Linked DNA regions of Homo sapiens. The protein of the gene in region 2 interacts with the protein of the main gene of each other region in a pairwise test. Each region holds a gene or a part of one and is shown on either strand. Other genes may lie near its edges. The genes, in order: CDC14A, AATK, PPP3CB, MTMR8, STYX, PTPN18 and MTMR9.

Region 1 (3,500 bases), on a different chromosome or scaffold from region 2:
CCGAAATATTATTAATATAGAGACATTTATGGTGATTTTGAAAAATGGCATTGGTTTACAATGCTCATGTATGATTAAAAAAATCAGCATTTAAAACTGCATATACAAAATTATGCCAATTAAAAATTTATAGCACTGTAGGTTTGAATTTCTTCATTGTAGAAAAGCAATATTCTTTGAAAAATTAAAAAAAATATTTCTAAGACACAATGAATTTCACAATTCAGTATAAAAAATTCAGCTCAAATCACAAAGCCAGAAAGGAACTTGAGATCAGTTGTGCCACTTACCTCCCCACATTTTAAATATCCAGGACAGACACGGTCTATTTTCCGCTTAAAGATCACAAAAGACAAAGACTCCATTATAATGACCCCCTTTTTACTTCCTATCTCCAATCCTCAAAACAAAACAGAATAGCAAAAAGGCAGTTTCCTTCTGATTTACGTACCTCACCTACTTAAAGGTGTCCCTCTCTCCCAGTCACCCAAGCCAGAAACTTTGAATTCACCTTTGCTTCCTCCTCCCTACCCGCATCTGCTCAGTCCCAAATCCAGTCAACCAATTCTTTCCAGCCTCTCCCCATCTGGCCTTTCTTTCCCCACTGCTGCAACCCTAATCCAATTCTTCCATAGCCTAACTGACCCCACCTTCGAGCGATGGCAGCACTCGTCCTAAAGTAGAGCCCTGGTCACTCTCTGCCATTTACAAGCAAGCACAATTTACTGACATCCAAACAGTTTTCCACAATCCAGTCCCCAACTAAGTGACTGCTGCTGTGACCTGTGACTCCTCTCCATTCAAATATTATTACACCTCCTCTAACAGAATCTTGCTATTCCCAAACACCTCTTGTGCCTTTTCTCAGGACTCTGCCTGAAATCTTTTTCTTTCCTTTCTTCCTCATTCACTTACTCACTCATTCATTCATTCAACTAAAATTTCTTGAGCCCCATATCTATGCCAGGCACAGTGCTAGGTGTTGGGACATAATGGTGAGCAAAAACAGGTAGTACTGGTCCTCACAGAGATCATAAAATGTACTCTTTGCTATTATACACCCTTCAAAAACTAGCTCAGTGCTTATCACCCTGGGTAGCAATAATCTCTTCCTTTCTTGAACTCCTAACACATACATTTGCAGCTTTGGTCATGTATTATCCTGTACTGCATGTGTTTCTACTTCCTTCTTTACAAATACATATCTCCAAAGCATTAGTACAGTGTTCTGCATCAAAATCTATCCCATCTAAATACTAAGTTTCTTGTATAGCAATTTTCAACCACTTATGAAAGTTTTAAGTTATGCTTTTCACTTCCCATAAAAATGTGTCAAGAGTTTTGTGAGGCTTGTGTTTTAGTTTTTAGTTTTTTTGTTTTTTGTTTTTTGTTGTTTTTTTTTTTTTAAGCACAAAGGGGTATTGAGCTGTGGCTAAGTAAAAGTCATTTACTTCTGGCTTGGGAATGTGTTTATGAACTTACAAATGAGAACATCTGATGTCTTAGGAATCTACTTCAAACAAAATAATGAAGCCGCCCTGTGGTGACCTGGCACAGAAAGAACTTGGAAGGCTGACAGCTCCCCACTGGGATCTCCTGCAGCCCACTTGGAGCTCTCTCTCAGGCTGCATGATTATGACTAGCCCTGTTAAGATAACTCTCCTTAGCACCTCGGCTACATTTTTTGTTTTCACAGCCTTATCTCAAGCAAACTGAAAAAACAGAGTAATAATTTATCATTATGAAGATTAGAGATCAACTCTACACCGAATGCCTAAGAGGTCAAAACAGCAGATATTTAAATAAATCATTATCTAGAAGGTAAATTTGATTCCCCTGGATTACAGAATTAAGAACTGTGGGCCAGGCACGGTGGCTCACACCTGTAATCCCAGCACTTTGGGAGGCCGAGGCAGGCAGATCACTTAAGGCCAGGAGTTCGAGACCAGCCTGGTCAACATGGTGAAACCCTGTCTCTACAAAAAAATACAAAAATTAGCAAGGCATGGTGGCATGCACCCATAATCCCAGCTATTCGGGAGGCTGAGGTGGGAGAATTGCTTGAACCCCGGAGGTGGAGGTTGCAGTGAGCCGAGATTGCCCCACTGCACTCCAGTCTGGGTGACAGAGCAAGACCCTGTTTCAAAAAAAAAAAAAGAACTAACTATGAATGTACACAGATATATCTACTTCCTCTTAACATATACTACATCATAACACTGGCTGTCATGTGTTCAAAACAGAAGGTGAAAAAGGCTAGGCACAGTGGCTCATGCCTGTAATCCTAGCACTTTGGGAGGCCGAGGCAGGCAGATCACGAGGTCAGGAGATCAAGACCACCCGGCCAACATGGTGAAACCTCGTCTCTACTAAAAATACAAAAAAAAAAAAAAAAAATAGCTGGGTGTGGTGGTGCGCGCCTGTAATCCCAGCTACTCAGGAGGCTGAGGCACGAGAATCGGTTGAACCCAGGAGGCGGAGGTTACAGTGAGCTGAGATCGCACCACTGCACTCCAGCCTGGCAACAGAAGGAAACTCCAACTCAAAAAAAAAAAAAAAAAGAAGAAGGTGAAAAAAAGCAGCCCTGAACAATATTACTTTTCCAAGGTTTGGATGAAGAGAAGAAAAAGGGGGGAAGAAACTATAAACTACCATCTTTTAGAAAGTAAACAGTTTTCTGAGGGTTTTTTTTGGAGAATACCTTAAAAAAAAAAATCACCTTAAGTTACACCAGGTAAGCAGCCAGAACATTTCACCAGACAGCCTACAAAAGCAGTTATCATAGGCTTATAAAAACTGGGCTTCTTTCGTTTTCACGTGTCCTACAATTAACTCAATTTCTTTCCTCTCTTTCTTTTTGGTAGTGCACTGATAGGAAAAAAAAGGCAAAATTATACCCCCCAAAAGTGAAATTACAAAGAAAAATGTTTAAATTACCACCACACATTCCCAGATAGGAGCTGGTCATAGTTTGTGCATATACTGTCAGTGGCACATTTCCCCCAAGAGCCATCACCACCCAAGTTAGAGGGATCAAGTCTGTCAGGAAGGGGCAAAGTTGTCCCATACCCTCCCCATTGGCATCAGTCTCAGGCCAACTGGGAAATGCCTGGACTCCAGGGTGGACTGCCTCTGGCTTGCATCCCTGCTCTGCCTTACCAGCTCAGTGACCTTAGGCAATATACTTCCCTCTCTGGACCTCTACTTCCTCCTTTGTTAAGTAGTGATAATAACAGCATCTAACTCCTAGGCTTGTTCTGAGGATTAATTGAGTTAATGTGTGCGTGTAAACCACTTAGAACACTGCCTGGCACAGGGCTATACATGTTAGCTGCTGCTGCTGCTGCTGTTGTTGTTGCTATGGCTTTATTATTATTCCCACAATGAAATTTGTCTCGAGGTTCAACCAAATCTCCTCTTCTGTCTATATCATAGCAATTTATAATGAGAATTGAGGTTCTAAATGATGACCGTAAGGCTCTATCAGATCATATATATGT
Region 2 (2,213 bases):
CCTGGACATCCCGTCCTCAGCCAGTGATGGTGGCTATGAGGTCTTCAGCCCGTCGGCCACTGGCCCCTCTGGAGGGCAGCCGCGAGCGCTGGACAGTGGCTATGACACCGAGAACTATGAGTCCCCTGAGTTTGTGCTCAAGGAGGCGCAGGAAGGGTGTGAGCCCCAGGCCTTTGCGGAGCTGGCCTCAGAGGGTGAGGGCCCCGGGCCCGAGACACGGCTCTCCACCTCCCTCAGTGGCCTCAACGAGAAGAATCCCTACCGAGACTCTGCCTACTTCTCAGACCTCGAGGCTGAGGCCGAGGCCACCTCAGGCCCAGAGAAGAAGTGCGGCGGGGACCGAGCCCCCGGGCCAGAGCTGGGCCTGCCGAGCACTGGGCAGCCGTCTGAGCAGGTCTGTCTCAGGCCTGGGGTTTCCGGGGAGGCACAAGGCTCTGGCCCCGGGGAGGTGCTGCCCCCACTGCTGCAGCTTGAAGGGTCCTCCCCAGAGCCCAGCACCTGCCCCTCGGGCCTGGTCCCAGAGCCTCCGGAGCCCCAAGGCCCAGCCAAGGTGCGGCCTGGGCCCAGCCCCAGCTGCTCCCAGTTTTTCCTGCTGACCCCGGTTCCGCTGAGATCAGAAGGCAACAGCTCTGAGTTCCAGGGGCCCCCAGGACTGTTGTCAGGGCCGGCCCCACAAAAGCGGATGGGGGGCCCAGGCACCCCCAGAGCCCCACTCCGCCTGGCTCTGCCCGGCCTCCCTGCGGCCTTGGAGGGCCGGCCGGAGGAGGAGGAGGAGGACAGTGAGGACAGCGACGAGTCTGACGAGGAGCTCCGCTGCTACAGCGTCCAGGAGCCTAGCGAGGACAGCGAAGAGGAGGCGCCGGCGGTGCCCGTGGTGGTGGCTGAGAGCCAGAGCGCGCGCAACCTGCGCAGCCTGCTCAAGATGCCCAGCCTGCTGTCCGAGACCTTCTGCGAGGACCTGGAACGCAAGAAGAAGGCCGTGTCCTTCTTCGACGACGTCACCGTCTACCTCTTTGACCAGGTGGGCCGCCGCCACCCGGGGTCTGCCCGGGGCTGGGGGTCGCGCTCCCGCAGGAAGGGGTGGGAGCGGCCGCGGCTCCTGGCGGCCGAGCTACCTGGTGCTCTCTGATTCCTCCAGGAAAGCCCCACCCGGGAGCTCGGGGAGCCCTTCCCGGGCGCCAAGGAATCGCCCCCTACGTTCCTTAGGGGGAGCCCCGGCTCTCCCAGCGCCCCCAACCGGCCGCAGCAGGCTGATGGCTCCCCAAATGGCTCCACAGCGGAAGAGGGTGAGCAGGGGCGGGGCTGGGCCCGTGACGTCACGGGAGGCAGGGCCTGGTCCGTGCTGTGTGGGAGGCGGGGCCTAATGTGTGACATCATGGGAGGAGCACCTGGTCCTTGACGCGTGGGAGGCGGGCTTTGGCCCGTGTCGTCATGGGAGGCGGGTCTGGTACGTGACGTCACGGAAGGCGGGGCCTTGTCCGTGCTGCATGGGAGGCGGGGCCTGGGCCCGTGACATCATGGGAGGCGGGGCCTGGGCCCGTGACATGATGGGAGGCGGGGCCTGGGCCCGTGACTGTGGGAGCGGGGCCGGGCCGGGGTCCCAGGCTGTGAGCGCGAGTGACGCCGCGACCTGGGCTGCAGGTGGTGGGTTCGCGTGGGACGACGACTTCCCGCTGATGACGGCCAAGGCAGCCTTCGCCATGGCCCTAGACCCGGCCGCACCCGCCCCGGCTGCGCCCACGCCCACGCCCGCTCCCTTCTCGCGCTTCACGGTGTCGCCCGCGCCCACGTCCCGCTTCTCCATCACGCACGTGTCTGACTCGGACGCCGAGTCCAAGAGAGGTGAGGCCTGGGCGGGGCTGTGGCAGAAGGGCACGCGGGAGGCAGGGCACGGAGCTCCGAGGGTGGGGCCCCTCCGTCTAGGTCCTGGGCCGGGCCAGCCCCGGCTCCGCTCCGCTCCGCTCCTTCCCGGCCCCGCTCCTTCCCGGCCCCAGACCTAGCCTGGACCCCGCCTGGCCCTCGCCTGGCCCTCACCTGACCCTCACCTGACCCTCACCTGACCCTCACCTGACCCTCACCTGGCCCTCACCTGGCCCCTGCACTCGGCTCTCCTCTGCCTGACCCTACCCCGCAGACCTGCGGCAGGCCCTCTCACCGGAACCTTCCCAGCCAGAAGTCCCTGCAGACCCAGGTCCCACGGTGCCCCGGCCCCA
Region 3 (3,500 bases), on a different chromosome or scaffold from region 2:
AATTACTCCATCAGACACTTGTCTGTCTTGCAATGTAGAAGCAGCTTTGTAGCACCTTGTTTTGAGGTTTGCTGCATTTGTTGCTGCACTTTGTGCATTCTGAACATGAATGTAACATTAGATATTAAGTCATTGTTATAAGGGGTTGAATTTAAATCCTGTAAGTCAAAATTGAAAGGGTGTTATTAAGTGTGCCTTTATTTTGCATGAAAATAAAAAGAATTATACGTAAAGCATTCCTGTAATCTGGCTCATTGAATATTTTATACTTAAAAAACTTTTTTTGGCGTAAATATTTGTGTAAATACTGGGTTAACTTTTTAAAAGCCCATTACAGATTAAATAGAAGAGAGTGATGTGAGTATTAGTGACCATACACAGTAATTCAGTCTAGATTTCTTTTCCTGTGGTTGGAAAGCAAAAATACATGATGTGGAAAAGCCTGAATTTCTTGTAGTCACTTTTGACAGCCCTCTAAGGGTCATTGTCTATTAAAATAGCAACAGATCTGATGTTTTCCTTAGTCATAATTAGGTTTCTTTTTGGTGTTGTAATTAGTGACTTTTTTAGAGGGAAAAAAATAGGCAATTTTAACGTTTTGAATGAATTTACATTTGACTTCACAATTTCATTTCACTTGGTTCCATAATAAGTGCTCTTTTTTTTTCTTTTCTCTCTTCTCTTCTCTTTCTTTTTCTTTCTTTCTTTCTTTCTTTCTTTCTTTCTTTCTTTCTTTCTGTCTTTCTTTCTTTCTTTCTCTCTCTCTCTCTCTCTTTCTCTCTCTCTCTCTGTCTTTCTTTTTTTGTGTGCATGTGTACATGTGTGTGTGTGAGAGAGACAGACAGGGTCTGGTTTCTTGCTGTGTCACCCAGGCTGGAGTGCAGTGCAGCCTCAACCTCCTGGGCTCAAGCAGTCCTCCATTTCAGCCACCCAAGTAGCTAAGACCATAGGCACATGCCACCACAGCCAGCTAATTTTTTTTATTTTTTTTATTTTTTATTTTTTTATATTTTTGTATTGCCCAGGCTGGTCTCAAACTCCTGGGCTCAAGCAATCTTCTGACCTCAGCCTCCCAAAGTGCTGGGATTATAGGCATGAGCCACTATGCCTGGCCAATGATTGCTTTTCAATAAAAAAAATTTTTTTCCTGTAAACAATTTTTACTTGTAGCCTATACATGTTCTATTTTAAATGTCATTGTATTGTTCACTACCACCACTGGTATATCTGAAAAGTACACTGTGTTTTGAAATTATAAATTTTCATTCTGAATGAGGTTTCTTTTTTTGATTTTCTTTAAAAAAAAAAAACAACCTGCTTTGATTTGCTTTACATTCCTTGCCCTCCATTTTTCTTATTATATTGTAAACATTAGAAAAATGAACTAAAAAGAATTTCATGAATGTACATTAAAACAAGATCTTAAACATTTGATAAAACTAGTAAAAATGTTAATAGAAAAGGATGAACTTTAATAGCTTCAAAAATATTATACTCTTCTTTGTTCAGAAAAGAAAAATAAAACCAAAAGGGTATCATACTTAAATAAATCTACAGTATAGTCATCTCTCAGTTATCCTTGGATATAACATTACTTTTATATTGTATCCGCAGCAAACCTTGCTTTCAGATTTCACGATTAGCCCCTGCTAATTACATGCTTTGTTGACTTCTGTTTATTCTTAATTTGTACACGGCTTGAAGCTCATTCCTTCAACTTTGAAACCACCCTCAACTGCAGGGGAGGTTTGAAAGACAGCAGCTTTGCTGGAGGGACTCTCTATTCTCAGCATGGACTAAGTTACTGGAAGGAATTGAGTTTAAGGGGTCTAATTTGGGACCCCTTAAACTAGATAGCTTCTAGTTTTGCTAGCTCTTGATAGTGTGGTTTGGGCATTTGGTCAAAATTATTTTCCTAGCATAAGATAAATCCACTTTGAAACAAATAACAAAGGTCATACAAAAGCTGCATGTTTGTGATTATTTTTTAAAAAGTTATCCTACATTTTAAATTTTAGTAGATAATGTTCCCTGATGTTAGTGTGTATAACTGAGAGTTAGGTATTGCAAAAGGAAAAAATTTTAATTCTAAGACCTCGTGCCTATTTGTCAGAAAATAAAAATTGTCGTTTCAAGAACTTTAAAAGTTAATTTACATGATGTTTCTTGAGTGTTTTTACAAACTGCACAACTCTATTGGAGGTGGATTTTCTGTTCATCTTTATTTTATGTATGTTTTCTTTCTGGGAAATTTGATTGGGAGCTAGCACTGTAATGCTACCCTCACCAGGATCTATATGGGAAATATATGTGGCCAATTCTATGTTAGTAATACCAAATTCCTCTTGGTCATTTATCTTGCATAGTACTGAGGAACACAGTTTGAGATAGCACTATGCTCAAACTTATTAAGGCCATGACAAGATGCCCTATATAACTGAAAACAAATAGAGGAGAAATAGTGCCTTTCAGATAGAGTGTTGCAATTAGCAATCTGGGCTCAAGTGATCTTCCTGCTTCAGCTTCCCGAGTAGCTGGGATTACATATGCACACCACCATGCCCGGCTAATTTTTTAAACTTTTTTTGGGGGGAGATGAGGTCTCTCTATGTGTTGCCCAGGCTGGGCTCAAACGCTCAAGGGATCCTTCCACCTCAGCCATCCGAGAGTGCTGGGGTTATAGGCATGATCTTCCATGTCCTGCCCGATTTGTAATGTAGTTTAACAGTTAAGGAAAATTAACTCTTCCTTTATTCAGTGTTCGTCCTAATTCTTTTGGGTCCCCAATTCACTTTACTGTCTGGTTAAGATCAACATTTTCTAACTTAGTTCACTTTAATACCTTAGATTCATCAGTTTCTTTTACATTAATAATTGCTTTGGATAAAATTATTTCTAAATCATGTTAATTGCTAAAAGATCACTTCAGGAATAATTATTCTAATTGGCCTTATTGCAGAAGAAGCAAAATAGGAGAGACCAGGGCATTACTTTTACAAATATTCTGAGTAATAAGGGGAATGGACAATATTGTAAACCAGTATTGTTGTGTGCTATCTTGAGTCCTGGTCCTCAGTGTGAGCTCTTTATACAGTTCAAACCCAGAAATGAGCGAAAAAAAGAATCTTTGACTATAAAATGTTTGACTAATTATGGTGAAATTCTCTAAATGGACCAGTGACACACTATACCAATAATGTATTTCTTATTTATAATATGACCTATGTGTCTATATCATGAAATAATTAGAATTTATGCCTGTAAGACCTCACTTCTCTTCCTTAATGTCTCTTTAATTGGTAGATGAGTTTGAAAAGATGCTCAGTAGTCTTTTTCTGAGGCAAATTTGAGTTCATGATAAACTCTGTCAGTATAAATGGAATTTTTTAAGGCTATAGATGTTAGTATCTGTAGGTATTTGGAACATCAGTACTAGAATAGAAAGGAAGTTACTGGTAGACAGGAGAAGTCCTTTCAGGTCCCCCACAAAGAACAGAGCC
Region 4 (3,500 bases), on a different chromosome or scaffold from region 2:
ACATATGCACAATAGAATATAACTCAGTCACAAAAAAATGTAATCCTGTCATTTGCAACAACATGGATGGAACTGGGGGACATTATATTAAGTGAAATGAACAAAGCATAGAAAGACAAATATTGCATAATCTCATTCACATGTTGTAGGAGCAAAAAAAAAAAAAAAATGAACTCATGGAGACAGAGAGTAGAATGATGGTTACCAAAGGTTGGTAAGGGTAGTGGAGTGGGGGGGATAAAAAGAGGATCCTCAACGGGTACAAAAATACAGTTAGATAGAAGGAATAAGATCTAGTATTCAGTAGCAAAACAGGACGACTACAGATAACAATAATAAAATAACTGAAAATGGAATTGGAATGTTCCTAACACAAATAAATGATAAATACTTGTGGTGATGGATACCCCAATTACCCTGATCTGATCATTACATATTGTATGCCTGTATAAAAATATCACATGTACCCTATAAATATGTACAACTATTATATATCCATAATAATTAAAAATAAAAAATGTTAAAATAAATTAGCCTTCACAAGGCTACTCTGCAAAGCATCAGGTTGTTTCTGGCTTCCTTAGGCTGATTTTCATGCCCTGCACCTATGCTCCCATAACACCCTATGCTTTAGGCCATGAGATCTCTTACTCAGTGCCTATTGCACTGTAGGTACTCAATAAATGTCTGTTGAATGGCTGAATGTTGAATGGAAAGGAGAGAGAGATTATGAGTCATTTCTCTCTTTTTTCAAAATCTTGTTTCCTGATATTCTACCATCTTAATTAAATGCACCAAAAGGCAAACAACAAGGACAAAATTACCTCATAGTTTCTGTTGGCATCTGTTATGGTCCAGTTTCTGTTGGGTATTCCCATACGCCCAAAGTCTGATATTGGGTCAATCAGTTTCCATCCACTTTCCCTCATCTCTTTTGAGGATTTGGGATTATAAGAAAAAGCATAAAGATCTTCAGGTAATGCTGGAGAAGAGAGATAGGCATGGAAAACAAAATGATGAATGAAACCTAAAAATCATCAAACAATGCAAATAAAGGCTAGATTTCCTTTTCCTAAGGGAATGTTTGTCAAACAGCCCCAGAAAAGGACTGTGGTGTGTGCAAGTTTGCCTTTATGTAAGGAATAAAAACTGGAATATTGTTTGGGTTCTTTGAAAAAATGTTTTAATTTTTTGTGTTATCAATACGAAGTGGGATCTTTCTGCCTGGCTTCCTATAAAAAAAGAATGCTGGATAATTGACTGAACTGAGGCTTCAGGGTTTCACATGTTAAGAAAAGAGTCCTTACCAAAAGTTTTTAACTGGGCTCCCATGTCCTAATAGTACTGCTTATTGTAACATGTTGCACATCTTTAACAATGTTTTTGCATTGTACTTGTCAGACCAACAGCAACTTCTGACTTATAAATGGCCCCTTCCTCTCTTTTCTCTGTCAGTCCTGCTTCCTCCCTTCACGAGATACAGCATCCAATCAAATAACTCATTTGACCAATTTATATGGCAACAACTTCTCCAGAGATTAATGGAGCCTATCAGAGACTTGTAAAATGCTAGGCCATCCAGCAGGTAACTTTATCAATAAAAATCAGCAAATATTGAGGAATTACTCTGAGGGAAAAGGGGAAAAATGGGAGAGAAAATGTAAGAGCATGATTAAAATCAAAGACTAAAATCAGAGGAAGCTGGTTAATTGCCTAGGGGTGGGGGCTGGGGAATGAAAGGGTGATGCTGGAGGAAGCATTAAGTCCTACATTAATGAGGACTTTGATGAACTGCCTTAGTCTTCTAGTTGGAATTAAAAGTAGGGGTGGAAATCGTGGGCCAAACAAAAAGTCTGCAGGACAGCAGGAAACAAATTTTCTTCCAAAGCAGTCTTCCTTCCTGAACTGAGAAAACATTCACAAGTTGATACTTTAAAGGAGGGAAGGAGAGAGAAGAAAATATCTATTAAACATCTACTATATACTAATACATGAAGGTATTCAAGGCTCAAAACAATCCCCTTGAAGAGCTTTTACTCTCCTTACTTTTACAGGTAAAGAAAATGAGTTCAGAGGTTATATAACTTGCCCAAATATAATGGAGCTAATAAGTGGTACAGCCCAGATCCAAACCCTCCTCTGACTCCATAGCCCTGATCTTTCCATTATGCCATTTTGGAAAAATATTAAAATGGTTTTAGATAAAAATACTATCATAACTACCTGGCTGAGAAAGCTTGAGCAGTGAAATATAAACCTCATGGCACACAAGGTCAGAATCTAAAACAAAGTGGGCCACCCGGAAATTCTTGCAGCGGAGGGTCAGGGGACAACCCAGGCTAGTGATGGGTAACTTCTCCACAGTGGCAATGTGATGGAGTGCAATCTGAAAAACATAAAAGAACCAGCGTAAACATACAGATGTGCAATATCTCTATCACTATCAGTATTCCTGACTCTCCGTAATGGTAACAGCATGACCAGATCTGTAGGCTACATCTACAGCCTACAACCATTCTTTGTAAGACACAACTGGGGTTCTCTCAAATAGAACTAAAGCATAATAGTGGTAAAGCAACAAGAAGCAGACTGCAGTGTTAGAAAACTTCTCTCTCCTTAAGGATACGAGATTACCAAGTTTGTGGGACAATTTTGGTAGATCAGCTCAGAATAGATGACTTTTAGCATGCTGTGATAGAGTTCACAATCAGAATAATTGTTACAGAGGAAAACAGGAATTTTTTTTCTTATATCAAATTACTAATTAAGATAATTATTAATAGCAGGTATTGTGCCTTATCATAAACAAAGTAGTCCATGACCATTAGCTATTTAAGAAGAGCCATTTGACGTGTAATCATCCTATTTCAGGAATGAAAAAAAAACAAAGCTCTGAGAAGTGAATTCCTCATCAGATATCATATAGCCAAGAAGTGGCACAAACAGAATTTGAACCATAGCAGTCTAAACTTAAGTCCAGGATTAAGTTCTGGAATAAGGATTTAACTAGAAATGTTAGGGAGGAACTATTCCTCTACATTTTAAACTCTAGTGACAGTAAAGCAAAGAATGTAGGATGATTACTTCTGTTCATGCTGATGCCAGCAAAAAAAGAAATGCATGGAAAGGGAACTGATGAAACAAAATGTGTCCAAATAATATAATTCTCTCTTAATTGATTCAAAAAGCCATATAATCATGGTTTTGCATTTTGATCTTTGATGTTCTCCTCCTATCCCTGTCTTATGTTTCTGCAACTATGGAGCCTGGATGTGCTCTTTCCATTCTCTAGACTCCCTGTCCTGTGCCTGGAATGGTCTTCCAATCAATAGTGCCTTTTCTGCTCTCCCATCACCTCAATGCCCCAGTCCCTAATTTCTTTGGAAAAGTCATCTCTTCAATGAAGTCTTTCAATCATATCCACCATCTAAGAATGGAGCAAGTGTGGAAATGATTCAGATATTCCTAGGATAAATTTTCTATTTTTTTTAAGGCAGGGT
Region 5 (3,500 bases), on a different chromosome or scaffold from region 2:
ATGGTGCTTTTTAACCCTTACTCTAGAGTAAGGAATTTTTTAAAAATACTGATGCGTGGACCCTACCAGCACCTATTGTAGTTTAATTTATCTGAATGAAGCTAGATGATTCTAATGTTCAGTCAGGTTTAAAAATTGCTGGTTTAGAAAATATCTTACTTGAGTACTCTTCTGCCCCTCCAGTCCCTGCCCACCTTCTCTTTTTATTTGAGTGAAACATTTTCTTTTCTCCTTTGATTTAAGCAAAGCTCAAGCTTGGTGTGGGAATGAAAGGAAAAGGACTTTGGAGGGATTTACCTATTTTTTCTAGGAGAGAAAGTGCAATACTAACTTTTCTGTTTTGTGGAATGTCCCAGTGCAAGTCTAGTATTCTGATGTTTTTTTTCTTCCCCAAACTGTTGCCCCCCACCTCCAGCCTATGTACAATTTGTGTTTTATTTTAGTATTGTGTATATAGGATTCAGCACTATCCTCAAATGTATGAACATATCCCCTGTGGATAAGGGGGGACTACTGTATTTGTAAAAGTTCATATTTCATATTTCAATGCATATAAGAATTATTTTATCTAATGGTTACAGTCTATATCCTTCATTGATGTGTTTATTTGAGGGTCTTTGAACATTTTTGTAACTTTTCTCTATCCAAATGCAGTTTTATAGATCATTTTTATGGAAAGGAAGGAGATAATTCGGAAGGATGTTTTAACATGTGGTACTTTCTACCTCATGTTGATCGAAAGATTTTCACTTGTGAATTAATTTGTCTCAGAATCATGGTGTTTCACAATAGAGGGTTATTTTGGTTTATCTGGCTTGCCTTGGTTTGGTTAATGTGGTTGAACTGCTTGGCTACTCATAAAGTTTGGGAAATTGATTTCTACTAATTAATTACAATAGTAACTTAAAATAGATCATTGCTGGTGATATGGAGATGCCTCCATTAATACCACGGTTTCTAAAATGATAGATTTCAGGAGTAGTGTGAGCAGGCTGAGATTAAGAATTAAGTGTGATAGTGGCAAGACTTGGTTATTAGACGTGTGTTCAGACGGATGTGTGGTAGAAGAAGACTATGAGCATTCAGACTTAAAATCTTGGTTAGTAAGATCCATAGACAGGCAGGGTTTTTTTGTTTGTTTGTTTGTTTTAACAGGTTGGAGTGCAGTGGCAGGATCTCAACTCACTGCAAGCTCCGCCTCCCGGGTTCACGCCATTCTCCTGCCTCAGCCTCCCGAGTAGCTGGGACTACAGGCGCCCGCCACCATGCCCGGCTAATTTTTTGTATTTTTGGTAGAGACGGGGTGTCAACCATGTTAGCCAGGATGGTCTCGATCTCCTGACCCTGTGATCCACCCTCCTTGGCCTCCCAAAGTGCTGGGATTACAGGCGTGAGCCACTGTGCCCGGCCAACAGGCAGGTTTAAGGTTTGTTCTGTAGGTGGTAATCTGGGTTAGGGCAGCAAAGAAGGTGGATTCTGAGATCAGCATCTGATGATAACACCAGGAATAGTTCCAAATGAACTTTTCTGTGAGAGAAAGCTTTCTAGGTTTCAAAGGATCCATACCTATTGCAGTAATTACTAATGTTCTCTGAAGAAGGCTTCTTATCTGTCCTGTGACTAGGAATAATTTTTCATTCCCTCCTACTATACAACTTGCTTTTCCCTCTTATAATATCTTCCATATATATATATATCTCAAGAGAGTCTTTCATGTTGTATTACATATAACCTTATGGAAAGCTCAAAAGTTCTTTGAAGCCTCTTGTTTTGCTAAAAGGTTCAGGTAAATTTTGCATTCTATCCCATATGTGCCTGTTTGTTTTAATATAAAAATTGTTTAAATTAGTAACCAGTGAAAATACTGTTTCTCCCTAAAGAATTTTTTTGATAAAATTGATACTTCAGTGGCTTTGAGTGTCTTTTGGCATATTGCCAAATGAAGGTGTTGAGGAAATGCCACTCCAAAATATGACACCTTGATATATTGATTACTTTAAGTTGGAAACACTTGCAAAGTAGCAAATGCAAAGAAACACTTTCTCTGAACTCCTGTTACCTACCTAAGGACAGATCCTCCAAAAGAAGCTCAGTTTGCTCCTAGGGAGTTTGATCAACCAGGGAAGATTGTCTCTTATCACTGGAGAGGAGAGTAAAAGTCAGCACCACACCCAGACAAACTGACACAAAGTATCATCTATTATTATTCTAAGGGCCCATTTATCTTTCTCCAGAATTGTTCTTCTAAATTGCCTGTATACCTCTACCCCCATGCTATATAAAGGGTATATAAACTCCTAAATATCACTTTTTTTTTTTTTGTATACACGTTTCTTTCCTGTGATACCCCCATGCACATAATGAATCTGTATACCTTTTCTCCGTTTAGTTTATTTCATAGACTGGTTTGAAATATCACGGATTTTGTTTGTTTTTGGTATACACTTTTTAAAAATACCACTTTTTTTTTTTTGGTATACACTTTTCTTTCCTGTGATACTCCCATACACATAATAAATTTGTATACATTTTCTCCATTTAGTTTATTTCATAGACTGTTATCGAATCCTGATGGTAGAGGGAAAGTCTTCCTTGCCTTACACAAGTATTTCCCAGAATATATTTACACCATTCCTTGATATGTGTTGCCCTGTTTTTTTTTCTTTAATTACACAAAATTTAGTGATTTCACTTTAGATAAATTCAAAAGTACTCATTTCTTTAATTGATTTTCTTCTTTATCACAGCTCTGACAAGTTGCTTCAGGAAGATAAGGCTGGCTGTTAGACTACTTGAGAATCTTTTAAAAAGAAAAAAGTCAATAACATTTAGTGCAGTAGATCTCTGAAATGCATCTATTTTGTGCTTATTCTGTGTCAGGCACTGTGCTTATCATTAGGGGTACCATGACTAAAAAGAGTATTTGGCCTAAAGTCTTTAAAAACTGTTTTCTTTTTCCTTTCTTTCTTTTTTTTTTTTTTTTTTTTTTTCGTTGAGATAGGGTCTGTCTCTGTTGCCCAGGCTGGAGTGCAATGGCACCATGATGACTCACTGCAGCCTCGACCTCCCAAGCCCGAGTGATCTTCCTGCCTCAGCCTCCCAAGTAGCTAGGACCTCAGTCATGCACCACCACCGCACCTGGCTAATTTTTTAATTTTTGTAGAGATGAGGTCTCCCTATATTGCCCAGGCTGGTCTTGAACTCGGGCTCAAGCTATCCTCCTGCCCCAGCCTTCCAAAGGGCTGGGATTGCAGGTGTGAGCTACCATACCTGGCTAAAAAACTCATATATAAAAAGATTACCATAACACATTGGTAAGTTAAAGAATCTAGGCTGGGCGCGGTGGCTCATGCCTGTAATCCCAGCACTTTGAGAGGCCGAGGCAGGTGGATCATGAGGTCAGGAGTTCAAGACCAACCTGGCCAAGATGGTGAAACCCCATCTCTACTAAAAATACAAAAATTAGCCAGGTTTGGTGGTGGGCGCTTGTAATCCCAGCT
Region 6 (3,500 bases), on a different chromosome or scaffold from region 2:
ACCTACCCAAAATAGCCAAAACAATCTTGGAAAAAAGAACAAATTTGGAAGACTCATACTTCCTGATTTCAGAACTTCTACAAAGGTATAATAATCAAAACTATGTTACACTGGCACAAGGATAAACACATCAATCAGCTTAATAAAATTGAGAGTTCAGAAATAAACCCTTATATTTATGGCCAATTAATTTTCAACAAAGGGGCCAAGACGGTTCAATGGGCAAAGCATAGTCTTTTCAACAAATGGTGCTGGAACAACTGGATAGTCACATGCAAAAGAGTGAATGTGGACCCCTATCTCACATCACATACAAAAGTTCATTCAAAGTAAATCTGAGACCTAACTGTAAGCAAGAAAACTATAAAACACTTAGAAGGAAGAACAGGAGTAAGTCTTTATGACCTCTGATTAGACAATGACTTCTCAGATACACCAAAAGCACAGCAACACAATAGATTGGAATTAAAGTTTCACAAAATGTTTGTGCTTCAAAACACACCATCAAGAAAGTGGAATGACAACCCACAGAATGGGAAAGACATTTTAAATCATGTACTGATAAGGGACTTATATACAGAATAACGCTTACAACTCAATAATAAAAAGACAACCCCAAATAGCCCAATTTTAAAATGAATAAATGACATGAATAGACATTTGGCCAGAGAAGATATACAAATGGACGAATAAGCACATGAAAACCAAAACCACAATGAGGTACCACTTCCCACTCATTAGGATGGCATATATGTCATTGTCATATGCCACATAATGATGTTTTGGTTAACAACAGACCACATATACAATGGTGGTGCCATAGATTATAATGGAGCATATGTAGAAACCTGATACATGGCACTTGATATTGACACTGCATATTAAGTTGGGGAAATGATTGATACTCAGTAATGGTGCTGGGACATTTGGTTTTCCATATGAAAAATATATAAATAAAAAATGTATATACTATCTATGTTTGTGTAAGTATACTCTATGATGTTTACACAATGACAAGATAGTCTTAACAATGCAGACCATATCCCTGTCATTAAACTACACATGTCCCTCCCTCCCTCTCTCTCTCTCTGCTGATGGGAACGTAAAATGGTACAGCCACTGTGGAAAACAAAATGTTGAACATAGCGTTATCATATGATCCAGCAATTCCATGCTAGGTGTATACCCAGGGAACTGAAAACAGGGATTCAAACAGATACTAGTATACCAATTTTTTGTTGTTGTTGTTGTTGTTGTTTTGAGACGGAGTCTCGCTCTGTCGCCCAGGCTGGAGTGCGGTGGTGCGATCTCGGCTCACTGCAAGCTCCGCCTCATGGGTTCACACCATTCTCTTGCCTCAGCCTCCCGAGTAGCTGGGACTACAGGCGGCTGCCACCACGCCTGGCTAATTTTTTGTATTTTTAGTAGAGGTGGGATTTCATCGTGTTAGCCAGGCTGGTCTCGATCTCCTGACCTCGTGATCTGCCTGCTTCGGCCTCCCAAAGTGCTGGGATTACAGGCGTGAGCCACTGTGTCCAGCCTGTATACCAATGTTTGTAGCCGCCTTATTTACAATAGTCAAAAGGTACAAACAACCCAGATGTCCAACAGGCGAATGGATAAACAAAATGTGATATATACATACAATGAAATATTATTTGGCCTTGAAAACAGTGAAATTCTGATACACACTGCAACATGGATGAACCTTGAAAAAAGGACAAGTATTGTATATTAGTGTATTCCTGATTCCACTTGCATGAGGTACCTAGAATAGGCAAATTCATAGGGACAGAAAGGAGAATAGAGGTTACCTGGAAATGGGGGAATGGGGAGTTATTGTTTAATGAATACAGAATTTCTGTTTGGGATGATGAACATGTTCTGAAAATAGACAGTAGGAATGGTTAATCCATTGTGAATGTACTTAATTCAATTGAATTGTACACTTGAAATGGTTTAAATGGCAAAATTATTTTTAACATTCCTCACAGCACCTATAAACTGGCAAATTTTATGTTATGTATATTTTACCACATAATTTAAAGAAAGACACAATGGCATACCACTTCACAACCCCTAGGATGGCTATAATTAAAAAAAAAAAAAAGACAGTAACAAGCATCAGGGAGAAGAAATGGGGACCCTCAAACATTGCCGTGGAAATGTAAAATGATGCTGCCACTGTGGAAAACAGTTTGGCACTTCCTCAAAATGTTAAAAATAGAGTTTCCATATAGCCCAGCAATTCCCAGCAATACCCAAGAGACATGAAAACCCACATCTACACAGAGACTTGTATATCAGTGTTGATAGCAGCACTGTTCATAATAGCCAAAAAGTAGAAAGAACCCAATTTCTGTCAACCAATAAGTAAAATGTGGTAGATCCATTCAATGGAATAGTATTCAGCAAACAAAACAAAACAAAACAAAAATGCTAAGCAAAAAAAGGCTACATATTATGTGATTCAATTATATGAAATGTCCAAAGTAAGCAAATGTATAAAGGCAAAAATAGATTAGGGATTGTCTGGGGCTGTAGAGGTTGCTGGGAAATGGGGAGTGACTGCTAATGGATATAGGATTTCTTTTCTTTTTCTTTTTTTTTGAGAGACAGTCTTGCTCTGTGGCCAGGCTGCAGTGTAGTGGCACAATCTCAGCTCACTGCAACCTCCAACTCCCTGGTTCAAGCTATTCTTCTGCCTCAGCCTCCCGAGTTGCTGGGATTACAGGCACATGCCACCATGCCCAGCTAATGTTTGTATTTTTAGTAGAGACGGGGTTTCACTATGTTGGCCAGGATGGTCTTGATCTCCTGACCTCGTGATCCACCAGTCTCAGCCTCCCAAAGTGCTGGGATTACAGGCATGAGCCACCATGTCTGGCCTGGATTTTTTTATGGAATGATGAAAATGTTCAAAAACTTATTGTGGTAGGCCGGGCACGGTGGCTCATGCCTGTAATCCCAGCACTTTGGGAGGCTGAGGTGGGCGGATCACGAGGTCAGGAGATTGAGACCATCCTGGCTAACACGGTGAAACCCCGTCTCTACTAAAAATACAAAAAATTAGCCGGGCGTGGTGGCAGGCGCCTGTAGTCCTAGCTACTCGGGAGGCTGAGGCAGGAGAATGGCGTGGACCCGGGAGGCGGAGGTTGCAGCGAGCTGAGATCGCGCCATTGCACTCCAGCCTGGAGGACAGAGCGAGGCTCCGTCTCAAAAACAAAAACAAAAACAAAAACAAAAATCTTACTGTGGTAATAGTTGCATAGCTCAGGAATATAGAAAAATGATGGAACTGTACACTTTAAATGACTGAATTGTATATCAATAAAGCTGTTTAAAAAGATATTCTAAAACAACTATAATAGCAGTGTACTGTGGAGTATATTTTATATATAGAACTATAATATATAGTAACAATAGCACAAAGCATGGAAAGGGGTAATCGAAATATACTACAGTAAAGTTCTGACATTTTACATGAAATGTAGAATATT
Region 7 (3,500 bases), on a different chromosome or scaffold from region 2:
TAATATATAATATATAACATTATATATTTTATTATATATGTTATATATTATATTATAATATATAACATATATAATACGTATTATATATAACATAATATGTATTATATATTATATAATATGTGTTATATATCATACGTATTATATACTATGTATTATATATGTATTATATAATATATATTACATATAATACATAGTATATAATACGTATGATATATAATATATATTATATAATACGTATTATATAATATATATTATATTTCACCTATATAATATATATAATTATTCACCTAATTATATTAAATAATTATTCACCTAAATATTCACCTAATTATTCAGCGAATAGGTGAATAATTATTTATTCACCTATTCACCTAATACATGTAATTATTATATATAATATATTAATAATTATAATATATAATAATAATAATTATATTATAATAATTATATATTATAATATAGTATAATATAGCATATAATATATATTATAATATGTATATATAATATATATACATAAATATATAATATATTTATATATATATAATATATATATAATGATGTCAGGTAATAAGGGCCAGGAAGGAAAGTAACGGAAGATGAGAGGATAAAGAGCACTGGGAGGCAGTTTCCTTAGAAAGGATTTCAGAGAAGGCAGGTGACATCTGACTACAGACCGGAATGAAATGAGGAAGCTAGAACTGTGAGTGTCTGGGGGAAGAGCATTGCAGCCAGAGGGAACAGCGAATACAAAGACTTGAGATGGGGAACATGCTTGGCATGTGCAGAGAAGAGCGAAGAGGCCAGTGTGGCTGCAGGGCAGGGAACAGAGAGTACAGGAAGTTGATGGTAGAGACTGGCTGGAGGGATAAGCAGTGGTCAGACCGTGGAGGGCCTGCAGGCCACAGTAATGGTTTTCATGGGAGCCCTTGGAGAGGTGAAAGCTAGGAAGCAGCAGCTGATAGATGTTTCAGAAGACAATTCTGGCTGCTGGCAGAAAATAAACTGTAGGGGGGCAAGACTGGAAGCAGCAGGCCCAGCTTGGAGAGTAGAGTAGTTCACATAAAAGATGATGGTAGGCCGGGCACGGTGGCTCACGCCTGTAATCCCAGCACTCTGGGAGGCCGAGGCGGGCAGATCACCTGAGGTCAGGAGTTCGACACAGCCTGGCCAGTATGGTGAAACCTCATCTCTACTGAAAATACAAAAAATAGCTGGGTTTGGTGGTGCATGTCTCTGATCCCAGCTACTCAGGAGGCTGAGGCAGGAGAATCACTTCACCCTGGGAGGCCGAGGTTGCAGTAAACTGAGATTGCACCACTGAACTCCACCCTGGGGTGACAGAGTGAGTCTCTGTCTCAAAACAAACAAACAAACAAACAAAAAACAGTAGTGTAGTCACAAGGAATCTGATTTGGGATGTGTTTTTGAAAGTGGAGCTGCCTTGCCTTGCTGGTGAATTGTAAATGAGGTGAGAAAGTCATTAAGGGTAACTCCTTCAGTTCTGCCTCTTACTAGACAAGTGCCTTTGGGCAAACTACTTAACCTCGTAGAAACTTAAGTTTAAATAATGCTTCACAAGTCTGTGGAATACTTTCATATATATCGCTTACATCATTTTATTTGATCCTTTCAACATGCAAGGTTGTATACAAGTTTTACAGTTATACCTGGTTTTTTTTTTAATGGACCTCAGAAAATTGAGTTACTACTACTCAGTTGATGACTCATCATTTTCATGATTGATTCCTTAAAAGGTTTCCTCTGTTGTTGATTTTCTTCCTCCCTAATTTTCACTCCCGTTTCCTGCCTCATCCACAATCCCTGTAGGCAACCACGTTAGTTGTTGCTATAAAATAGATAGCACTATTGTGTATGGGTGTGCGCACACATGCATGTGTGAGTTTAATTTGCCTAACTGGGATTATGTTGTAGATCTTGTTCTGCTTCTTAATATGGTGACACAATACTGTTTCAAGATCTCTTCATATTGCTGTGTGTACAACCATTTCACTGCTTCTGACAGCATAGGATTCCAAAGTATCTAAAAGAGCTTCCTTAACAGACCTTTTAGGTAACTTCCAACTCCCTGCTATCACAAACAACTCTGGTAAACATACTCATTCATGTCCCTTTATATAGTCTTGTGCCATAATTGCTCTGAGACTGCCCCTAGGATGGGATGGCGCCATAAAGTAGGTGCGTATCTCATTTCACAAACTAATTGCTTTCCAGGATGACAATTGCACATTGCCTTCCCATGATGGTGCAGGAGAGGGTACCTCGTCTCCACTTTCTTACCAACATTTGGTATTGTCTTTCTAATTTTTCCAGTCTGAAGATTGTGAAATAGTTATTGCTTTGTTTTAATTTGAATTTCATTAATTATTAGTGTTTAATTATCTTTGTATATGCTTGTGAGCAGTATACTTAAAATTTTTTTTTTTCCTTTTTGTGAATTGCCTAATTTCTGTGGTCTACTTTTAAACATTGGGTTTATTGTCCTTCTCATGTTGATTTGCATGGGTACCTTGTATACTCTGTGGGTGTTCATTCTCCATTTAGGCATTACGAATGTTTTCTAGTGTGTCACCCATCTGTTGTTTTTTTCTGTGGTGCCCTTTGTTGAACAGAAATCTTTACTTTTAATGCAGAACTTGCCAATGTTTTGCTTTATGGTGTGTGGCTTGTCTTAAGAACTCCTTCCCTGTCCCCAAATCACCAGGATGTTCTCCTACATTTTCTTCCATAATAGCTTCATAGTTTTACTGTTCATTTTTAGGTCTTTAATTTGGATTCTATCTTTGTTTCAAGTGTGATAAGAACCTATTTTTCTCCATAGAGCAAGCCAGTTTTCTTAATCCCATCACGTGACAACCCAACCTTGGCTGGTTTATGTCAAGTTATCCTATATATACGGGTCTGTTTCTGAGCTCTCTGTCATAATCCATTGGTTCATTAATCTGCTCTTTTGTCATCATCATATTCTCTTTCCTTCTGTGGCTTTGTGATGTGTCCAAAAATCGGATAGTGCTAGTTGCCCCGCTTTCGTTTTTTTTTTTTTTTTTTAAAGTTGACAACTATGTTTCGACCTTTATGTTTCCATGCAATTTTGGAAAACTTGCTATGTTCATGGGATTTTTAAAAGTCTTTAATAATAATTGAAGACTCAAAGGCAGTTGCAAAAATTGCACATAGAGGTTTTAGAATCGTCCACTCAGCTTCCCCTAATGTTGACCTGTTTTATAACTGTAGTGTAATCAAAATGAGGACAAAATTAGGACATTGACATTGGTGCAGTACTATTAACTAGACCACAGACTTTATACAATTTTCATAGGATTTTAAAAAAATGAATTGTTTTGGATTTATAGATTAATTGGAGTCAAATTGACATCTTGACATCCATGAACAATGTTACATTATTTATTCAGATCTTCCTTTAAGTCCCTTAGTGGAACTTTAAGATGGTGTATATGCTAGGTGCTGTACTAGGAGCTGAG

What was found.
Region 1: the proteins of AATK (region 2) and CDC14A interact in a two-hybrid assay, tested with the Homo sapiens proteins (one study listed by BioGRID and IntAct).
Region 3: the proteins of AATK (region 2) and PPP3CB interact in a two-hybrid assay, tested with the Homo sapiens proteins (one study listed by BioGRID and IntAct).
Region 4: the proteins of AATK (region 2) and MTMR8 interact in a two-hybrid assay, tested with the Homo sapiens proteins (one study listed by BioGRID and IntAct).
Region 5: the proteins of AATK (region 2) and STYX interact in a two-hybrid assay, tested with the Homo sapiens proteins (one study listed by BioGRID and IntAct).
Region 6: the proteins of AATK (region 2) and PTPN18 interact in a two-hybrid assay, tested with the Homo sapiens proteins (one study listed by BioGRID and IntAct).
Region 7: the proteins of AATK (region 2) and MTMR9 interact in a two-hybrid assay, tested with the Homo sapiens proteins (one study listed by BioGRID and IntAct).

The regions. Positions count from the first base shown.
Region 1 is NC_000001.11:100,359,006-100,362,505, reverse strand, and holds part of CDC14A (dual specificity protein phosphatase CDC14A), read right to left. Parts: intron 1-3,500. UniProt on the Homo sapiens protein: Dual-specificity phosphatase. Required for centrosome separation and productive cytokinesis during cell division. Dephosphorylates SIRT2 around early anaphase.
Region 2 is NC_000017.11:81,119,009-81,121,221, reverse strand, and holds part of AATK (serine/threonine-protein kinase LMTK1), read left to right. Parts: coding exon 1-1,021; intron 1,022-1,138; coding exon 1,139-1,286; intron 1,287-1,641; coding exon 1,642-1,842; intron 1,843-2,213. UniProt on the Homo sapiens protein: May be involved in neuronal differentiation.
Region 3 is NC_000010.11:73,440,525-73,444,024, reverse strand, and holds part of PPP3CB (serine/threonine-protein phosphatase 2B catalytic subunit beta isoform), read left to right. Parts: exon of another isoform or gene 1-236; intron 237-3,500. UniProt on the Homo sapiens protein: Calcium-dependent, calmodulin-stimulated protein phosphatase which plays an essential role in the transduction of intracellular Ca(2+)-mediated signals.
Region 4 is NC_000023.11:64,353,953-64,357,452, forward strand, and holds part of MTMR8 (phosphatidylinositol-3,5-bisphosphate 3-phosphatase MTMR8), read right to left. Parts: intron 2,387-3,500; coding exon 2,224-2,386; intron 983-2,223; coding exon 825-982; intron 1-824. UniProt on the Homo sapiens protein: Lipid phosphatase that specifically dephosphorylates the D-3 position of phosphatidylinositol 3-phosphate and phosphatidylinositol 3,5-bisphosphate, generating phosphatidylinositol and phosphatidylinositol 5-phosphate.
Region 5 is NC_000014.9:52,736,666-52,740,165, forward strand, and holds part of STYX (serine/threonine/tyrosine-interacting protein), read left to right. Parts: intron 1-3,500. UniProt on the Homo sapiens protein: Catalytically inactive phosphatase. Acts as a nuclear anchor for MAPK1/MAPK3 (ERK1/ERK2). Modulates cell-fate decisions and cell migration by spatiotemporal regulation of MAPK1/MAPK3 (ERK1/ERK2).
Region 6 is NC_000002.12:130,362,556-130,366,055, reverse strand, and holds part of PTPN18 (tyrosine-protein phosphatase non-receptor type 18), read right to left. Parts: intron 1-3,500. UniProt on the Homo sapiens protein: Differentially dephosphorylate autophosphorylated tyrosine kinases which are known to be overexpressed in tumor tissues.
Region 7 is NC_000008.11:11,287,816-11,291,315, forward strand, and holds part of MTMR9 (myotubularin-related protein 9), read left to right. Parts: intron 1-3,500. UniProt on the Homo sapiens protein: Acts as an adapter for myotubularin-related phosphatases. Increases lipid phosphatase MTMR6 catalytic activity, specifically towards phosphatidylinositol 3,5-bisphosphate and MTMR6 binding affinity for phosphorylated phosphatidylinositols.